Regions from separate parts of the Homo sapiens genome. Here region 2 is reported to be linked to region 1. Evidence: microRNA targets listed by miRTarBase, many of them from high-throughput screens and not tested one by one. Region 1 holds a microRNA gene; the other region holds the end of a gene's coding sequence.
The links. Region 1 holds the annotated microRNA hsa-miR-4753-3p (UUCUCUUUCUUUAGCCUUGUGU, at 2,972-2,993, shown strand). A microRNA usually pairs through its seed, bases 2 to 8, with sites in the 3' UTR of a target mRNA and lowers its output. Matches are read on the target gene's strand: a 7mer-m8 pairs with bases 2 to 8, a 7mer-A1 pairs with bases 2 to 7 and ends in A, and an 8mer does both.

Region 1 (4,067 bases):
CAAGCTCCACCTCCCGGGTTCACACTGTTCTCCTGTCTCAGCTTCCTGAGTAGCTGGGACTACAGGCGCCCGCCACTGCGCCTGGCTAATTTTCTGTATTTTTAGTACAGATGGGGTTTCACCATGGTCTGGATCTCCTGACCTTATGATCCGCCCACCTTGGCCTCCCAAAGTGCTGGGATTACAGGCGTGAGCCACCGCGCCTGGCCTGACATGACCTCTTTTATGATGGGATTATTGCTTAGTATTTAAGGCAAAATGAAGTATAGGTAATAAAAGCAATGAGGATTGGAGCAGAGATTTATTAAATCTGACTGGCAGGGAAGGGGACATATCTATGAGATAAAAGAATGGATCTCCATAAAAATATCTTATCATTTCTCATAACTTAAAAGAGGTTTCATTTTTACTTATTTTGAATGTTAATAGAAGCTAGTTTTTGTTTCTTATTGTAGATGTGTGTTTATATTAACTCATTATTTTATAAACCAAATGCTGTACTATATTTTTATTTACTCACCACTGTACTAATTAGGGCAATATTTTTAAATTGATTTTTAAAAAATTTTCCCATGTATCCTACATGCAAATAGTGCATGGAAAATACATGTATAGTTTAAAGAACAGTAATAATATGGATACTAGTATGTCTCCACAGTAGCAATCAAATACTATTTACTTAAAACATGTAGTATGTCTCCTCCCAGAAGTAATTATAGTCTGGACTTTTGTGTAATCCTTGCTTTACTTTTCTTCAGAATTGAATTATCTATATTTATATTCCTAAGTAATTTTTATTTTACTTCGTAGTATGTCTCCTCCCAGAAGTAATTATAGTCTGGACTTTTGTGTAATCCTTGCTTTACTTTTCTTCAGAATTGAATTATCTATATTTATATTCCTAAGTAATTTTTATTTTACTTCATTTTTTTAGGGTGTTTTTTTGTTTTGTTTTTGTTTTTGAGGCAGAGTCTCGCTCTGTCACCCAGGCTGGAGTGCAGTGGTGCTATCACGACTCAAGTGACCTCCTGGGCTCAAGCGACCTTTCCATCTCAGCCTCCTAAGTAGCTGGAACTACAGGTGTGTGCCACCATGCCAGGCTATTTTTTGTAGTTTTTGTAGAGATGGGGTTTCACCCTGTTGCCCAGGCTTGTCTCAAACTCCTGGACTCAAGCAATCCAATCCATCTGCCTCAGCCTTCCAAAGTGTTAGGATTATAGGCATGAGCCACTGCACCCAGCCTGTTTTTTAGTTTTTTAAAAATTGAGTAACAAGCATAAGCCTAGTTTTATAAGAAGGCTCAGATGAAGGCTTTCTGAGAATGTTACCTGAATAGAGATTCTAAGTCATACTCTGATTTCAGATTTAGCTTCTCTGAGAGTTTACAAAAGCCCCTCTAGAGAATTCAGTTGGACAGGTCATAAGCCAGTTCTGATAAACCTAGGGGTCCACTACAGTTAGAATATCTGACACATTTGGCTGGGCATAGTAGCTCACTCCTGTAATCCCAGCACTTTTGGAGGCCAAGGCGGGCAGATTACCTGAGGTCAGGAGTTTGAGACCAGCCTGGCCAACATGGTGAAACCCTGTCTCTACTAAAAAAAAAAATACAAAAACTTTGCCGGGTGTGGTGGTGGGTGCCTGTAATCCCAGCTACTTGGGAGGCTGAGGCAGGAGAATCGCTTGAACCCAGGAGGCAGAGGTTGCAGTGAGTCAAGATCACACCATTGCACTCTAGCCTGGGTAGCAACAGCGAAACTCCATCTTAAAAAAAATAAAATAAAAAGAATATGTGACACATTCGCAGTGGATGTTATGTGGGAGTGTGCTCAGTCGTAGTAGCAGACTACTCTATATATATTCTCATTCTAGGCTTATGGTGATTTACCCCTATTTTTCACAAGTAGGTCAGAATGTTTCTGCTGGATAAAATGATGTCATTAGCTGATCTAGGTAGTGGCACATAAGACATGGAAGGGAGAGCTGGAATTTCATTGACACATAGTTGAAACAAGATAAATACAGATTTTAAAATCCAGTCTGGGTCACTCAGGCATTCAAAGACTACAGAGAGGCGGTAGCAGGTAGCTTAATGATAATAGCCTGCAGTATGACTTTCTTTGGAAATAACACTGCTGTAGTCTGGACTGGTTTCCCTCTATATCTGTTGCACAGCTATTTTCCTAGGGAGATCCCATTCTAGGGATCTCCTTTAATGTAGTTCTTGGATTTCTTTGTTTTTGGCATCTCAGGTTCCTCCCCACCCCCATACTTTCATTTTGGTGGAGCACATTCTCTAGTAGCTTCTAAAGAACAAGTGCATGAGATGGAATTTTTAGAGATTGGCTGCATTTAAATATCTGTATTTATTTTTGCAAATATCTTTATTCTATTCATAGTTTGGCTGGATTGGAAGTTTTTCCTTCAGTATTTTATTGGCAGTGTTGAATTGTTTTTTTGCTTCCAGTATTGCTTTTGTGAAGTCCAGAGCTCTTCCAATTCCTGATTCTTTGTATGTGACTTGTTTTATTCTTTATTTTTTGCTTTTCTGTCTCTGGAATCTTTTTTTTTTCTTTTCTTTTTTTGAGATGGAATCTCACTCTGTTGGCCAAGCTGGAGTGCAGTGGCACAATTTTGGCTTACTGCAGCCTCTGCCTCCTGGGTTCAAGTGTTTCTCCTGCCTCAGCCTCCCGAGTAGGTGGGATTGCAGGGGCCTGCCACCACGCCTGGCTAGTTTTTCTATTTTTAGTAGAGATGGGGTTTTGCCATTTTGGCCAGGCTGGTCTCGAACTGCTGACCTCAAGTGATCCACTCACCTCAGCCTCCCAAAGTGCTGGGATTACTGGCATGAGCCACCATGCCCTGCTAGGAATCTTGAATCTTTGTTTTTCGTATCCAGAAATTTAACTCTGAAATATATCTACACAAGGCCAAAGGAAGAGAACAGATATATCCACAGTACACTTGGCTGTTCTCTTTCTTTAGCCTTGTGTAGATATATTTTCATCCCCTGTGATGCCTACTTGCTAGACTCTTTCATTCTAGCAACTTCTGTCTTTCTGTTCTAGGCAGTTTTTTTGAATGATTTTCTTGATGATTTCCTCTCCTGCATTTTACTGTTCTCTCCTTTTTAATTTTTGTTCATTGTTACTATTTTTGAGATGAGGTGTTACTATATTGCCCAGGCTGGTCTCAAACTTCTGAGCTCAAGCGATTTTCCTGTCTCAGCCTCCCAAAGTGCTAGGATTACAGGCATGAGCTACTGTCCCAGCCCTGCCAAATTTTTTTTTTTCTTTAATTGAGACTGTGTTTCACTATGTTCAGCCCAGGCTGTTCTCACACTTCTGGGCTCAAGCAGTCCTCCTGCCTCAGCCTCCCAAGTAGTTGGGTAGCTGGGGTATAGGTGCATGACACTGCACTTGGCTGTTATCTTTCTTTGGCCAGCCATTATTTGATATTATACCTTCTGTAATATACTCTAATATGCTCACCTTTTAATTTCTTGCTTTTTATTAATTTTTTTGTCTTTTTATTTCTTTGAAATTTTATCTGCTTTGTCTTTTAATCCTTTTGTTGACTTTTTGCTGTAATGTTTAAGTTTTCAATGATTTTTTTTTTTTTTTTTTTTTTTTTGAGACTGAGTCTCACTCTGTTGCCTAGGCTGGAGTGCAGTGGCATGATCTCGGCTCACTGCAATCTCTGCCCTCCAAGTTCAAGCGATTCTCCTGCCTCAGCCTCCCGAGTAGCTGGTATTACAGGCGCCTGCCACCGCACCCAGCTAATTTTTTGTATTTTTAGTAGAGATGGGGTTTCACCATCTTGGCCAGGCTGGTCTTGAACTCCTGACCTTGTGATCCACCTGCCTCAGCCTCCCACAGTGCTGGGATTATAGGCGTGAGCCACTGCGCCCAGCCTTTCAATGAATATTTTTAAATTAAACTAGTTTAATTTTTCAAGAGCTCTGTTTTCTGTGTGTTTTGTACCACTCTGTTCTTATAGATGGATGCAATACCTTACCTTTCGGATTTTGATCTTTCAAAGGATTTTATAATTTTTGGTTTTTTCAG
Region 2 (4,060 bases), not on the chromosome of region 1:
CCGCATCCGCACCATCATGAAGCACGACGGCACCAAGACCGAAAAGCTGGAGCGGCTCATGGTGCGCATCGGCGTCTTCTCCGTGCTCTACACAGTGCCCGCCACCATCGTCATCGCTTGCTACTTCTACGAGCAGGCCTTCCGCGAGCACTGGGAGCGCTCGTGGGTGAGCCAGCACTGCAAGAGCCTGGCCATCCCGTGCCCGGCGCACTACACGCCGCGCATGTCGCCCGACTTCACGGTCTACATGATCAAATACCTCATGACGCTCATCGTGGGCATCACGTCGGGCTTCTGGATCTGGTCGGGCAAGACGCTGCACTCGTGGAGGAAGTTCTACACTCGCCTCACCAACAGCCGACACGGTGAGACCACCGTGTGAGGGACGCCCCCAGGCCGGAACCGCGCGGCGCTTTCCTCCGCCCGGGGTGGGGCCCCTACAGACTCCGTATTTTATTTTTTTAAATAAAAAACGATCGAAACCATTTCACTTTTAGGTTGCTTTTTAAAAGAGAACTCTCTGCCCAACACCCCCACAAGGTTTGTAATTAAAACTGTAAATAGTCTTTGTAAATTTAATTATATATATTTTCTATTTAAAAGAAAAAAGGAGAAAAAAAAACAGGGGTGTGGGCGCCAGGACTGAAGAATGAGGTGTGTGTGTGTTGGGGAGTGTAGTTGGGGGGAGGGTTCTCTTTCTTAAGTGCCCTTCAAAACCCGCCCCACTTTTGGAGTTTTTTGGTGATATGGCAGGGCTGGGCCTGATGGGAGAGGCACCCAGCCTGAGCGCTGTTTTTGTTGGCTTTGAGTCGTTAGGAGTTTGTTCCATTCAACTAATATAAAAGCCAAATTTGTGAGCCTCCTCTCTGACGCTGGGCCTGTGGAAGCCGTTGGATATTTTTGAACAGGACTTGGATTCGTTTTGTTTCCTTCCCCCTTTTCTTTCCCTACTCATTTGTCCTGTCTTCTTCACTCACTCTTGGAAAAGTCCCAACAGAGATGAAGACGTGGAAAAAAAAATCGGGGTCGGGGTGTGCTGGTGGGGAGAGGGCAGAGATCCGGTGAGGAATGGCTTCCACCCCCTGGCCCATTCCCCTGCAGGCTGGAAGATCTTTCTCCTGTCTGGCTTCTCTTCTTTTCAATTCGCTGCACCAAGTGCTTCCAGTGGCCCAAAAATGCTTTTTGAAGTGTGTTTTGAAACAGCCCCCACCAACATACACCCCACCAGGAGTACTGATCCTGCCTCCCTTCATGTCTAGGGGAAGCATTCGCCTTTGAGCACTTGTTTGCAAATCTGGGGAGTTTGAGACCTCCTAGCATCTCTTCCCTTCTTTCCCTGCAGTCTATTCACTCCCGCAGCCAAAAATCTCTGGCGTTCAGGTTAGCAGTTTCTGGGTTGGTTTGTGTGGGTTTTTGTTGTTGTTTGGGGCTTATTTTTTTCAAAAAGTGATAAAGACGGGTGGGTTGGAGGGAGGGGACTGATGGGCTGGTGGGCTTTTTAGTTTTCCTTTGAGAAAAAGACTGGTTTATTTAAAATTTGTCCAGAAAAAAATGAAAAAAAAAAAAAAGGTGGTATCTTTGCTTTAGAAGAAGTCTCTGGATAGGCCCTTTGTGGCTGTGGGGGTGGGTTGAGTGTTTACATTACATTCTATATCACAAGATTGATAGGATGTTTAAAGCAGATGTTTCTTATCTTCCCCTGAGCCCCTACAAATAAAGTCAAGACTTTTCTTTTTTTGAGACGGAGTCTTGCTCTGTCGCCCAGGCTGGAGTGCAGTGGTGCGATCTTGGCTCACTGCAACCTCCACTGCAGCGTTTCTCCTGCCTCAGCCTCCCAAGTAGCTGGGACTACAGGCGCACGCCACCACTCCTTGCTAATTTTTGTATTTTTAGTAGACACAGGGTTTCACCATATTGGCCAGGCTGGTCTCGAACTCCTGACCTCGTTATCTGCCTGCCTCGGCCTCCTAAAGTGCTGGGATTACAGGAGTGAGCCACAGTGCCTGGCCTGTCAAGACTTCTCTTAAGTTAACTTCCTGAGAAGTGATGTCTAAAAGTATCTTTGCTGGTGTGAGAACTCCAGTTTCCAACACATATTATTTCCCTCAACTATTTGGAATATTTTAGAATTTTAATTCCAAAGGATTAGTTTGAATACAAGTATGCCACATAACTCAGTTTTCGCCATCTTCCATTTCTTAACAGTGTAAATTAAAAGCTAATAATCATAATAATAAAGTGCATTTAATTATCTTTGAGAGATCTATCCTTTTAATTGTATTTAACAGGGTTGTAACATTTTATTAGTTTAACCAAACCACACCTCCTCCTCCCCTCTCTCCCTTACCTACTTGGCTGGGGGTGGGGCAGAGAAGAGTGCTCCCAGCCCTGGACCTTGCTTTCTTAGCTAAATGGTGATGGGAGAAATGGTGCCTTACCACCCTTTGTTGGCTGTCTTCCGGACAAGGGAGAAAGTTAAGTTAGAACCCCTACTTCGAAGTGTTTGCTTGTGTTAGTTTATGTTGGGGGAGGGGAACTGGAAATGTTTGGTGGTAATTGAAGTGATATGTGGGGCTTTGTTTGGAATTGTATGAAGCCTGTGGATTTCAGCAGCGCCCCCTCCCAAAAATATATAATTTCCCCCCAAATCATCTGTGTCAGTGGCCAGTTAAACCTAGCTTTTTATCAAATGATGACAAGTGTGAGATCTCAACATGAGGTTCCCTCAATTATCAAAGAAGCAGGCGGGAGGAGGTGTCACCGCCCCCGGCTCCATTTGTTGCAGGATTCTAAAGGGACCCCGCAAAGGCTGCAGGAAAGAGTAAAATTACAAACAAATTGTGAGTGCCTCTCCTTGTAATAATGGGAAAAGCCAGAGAATCAGGTGGGATTTTCCAGTACCTGGTATTGAGCTCAGTGGGAAGAGGAGCTGGTCTCTGTTGAAGATTGGGGAGAGCCTCTCCCACCTATAAGCCACCCAAGATCTTGGCTCTGTGTGCTTTGGGTACATTTGTCCCTGGACCCTCGCACTGAGCAACCCCCTCCTCAAAGTCTCCTGCCAACATAAAGGAAGAGAGCCTGAGACACTGACAAAATAGATTATATGACTGAGGAGGAAGACAGATAATAAGACAGTTCCATCTTTTGGAAAGAACAGATCTTAGAGATACCCTTCCCCTTCTTCAGGGGGAGTAGCCAAGGGCTGAATTACCCTACTGAAAATTGTTGTGGGGGAACCCTCCTCTCCACACCCTTGTCCTGTTTCTTAAATGAAACACTCTTAGAGGAAGGGAAGCTTTAGACCACAGTTTGGGGAATTTGGGGTAAAGAGGAGAAAGCACCCTGGAGGAAGACTCAGAGGTAAACCACCTGAACTCACTGCCTCACGGGAGAGGGCACCTCAGCTCCCTTGTTCAGAAAACCCAGTTAAAAACAGGAGCTTAGAGATCTGCTTTTGGAGATTTCTAGGTCGTCCTTTGAGCAGAAAAGGGTTTCCATGTTGTAAGTGGGCTGGTCCCTCCCTCTGGAAGAGCGAGGCTTTGTGTTTGCTGGAGGGTCAGGGCCAAGAAGGAAATACACTCACCTGTGGCACCTGGGCCTGGGGCAGGTCTCAGGCCCACGCTGCTTTCTGCCTGCTCTTCTGCCCTCCCCCAGGGCAATGGTCTGGGGTTTCAAGGTCCCAGGCATTTCTCCTCCAGACTCCCCCCTCTTATTGATCAGGCTTTCCCTCCTCCCAGCCCAGACTTCCCTCCAGAAGACTTTAACGTTAGTTCCAAACTTTTTGCCCTTTAAGATTTTTTGAAGAGCTAGCTCTAGAAAAAGGCCACTAAAGTTTCTCAAGACAAAATTCTTCTGAACATCCCCAAAGAATTAAGATTAGGTTCAGCCCAGTGGGATGGGGAACTGCTTTTTGTTCCAAAATCTCTTCAGGAGGGTGGGGAGATGCTGTCCCGGGGGTGCCTGCCATGGGGTCTGAGCCGGGCGAGCCCTCCCTTCTGCAGTCTTGCTACTCACTGTACCAGGGTCCCTCCTCCTCTAGAATCACTCTTCTTACCTTAAA

Region 2: miRTarBase lists FZD2 as a target of hsa-miR-4753-3p. Seed matches in the 3' UTR shown: 8mer at 509-516.

Annotation. Positions count from the first base shown.
Region 1 is chr1:235,188,966-235,193,032 of GRCh38, reverse strand. MIR4753 (microRNA 4753) reads left to right here and starts at 2,917; the gene lies at 2,917-2,999. The region is part of intron 19 of ARID4B (AT-rich interaction domain 4B); the gene reads left to right.
Region 2 is chr17:44,559,005-44,563,064 of GRCh38, forward strand. It overlaps FZD2 (frizzled class receptor 2), which reads left to right. Exons shown (of 1, transcript NM_001466.4): 1 at 1-2,258. The coding sequence ends at 382. Among named protein-coding and RNA genes, the nearest start is that of FZD2, 3.6 kb to the left of the region's middle.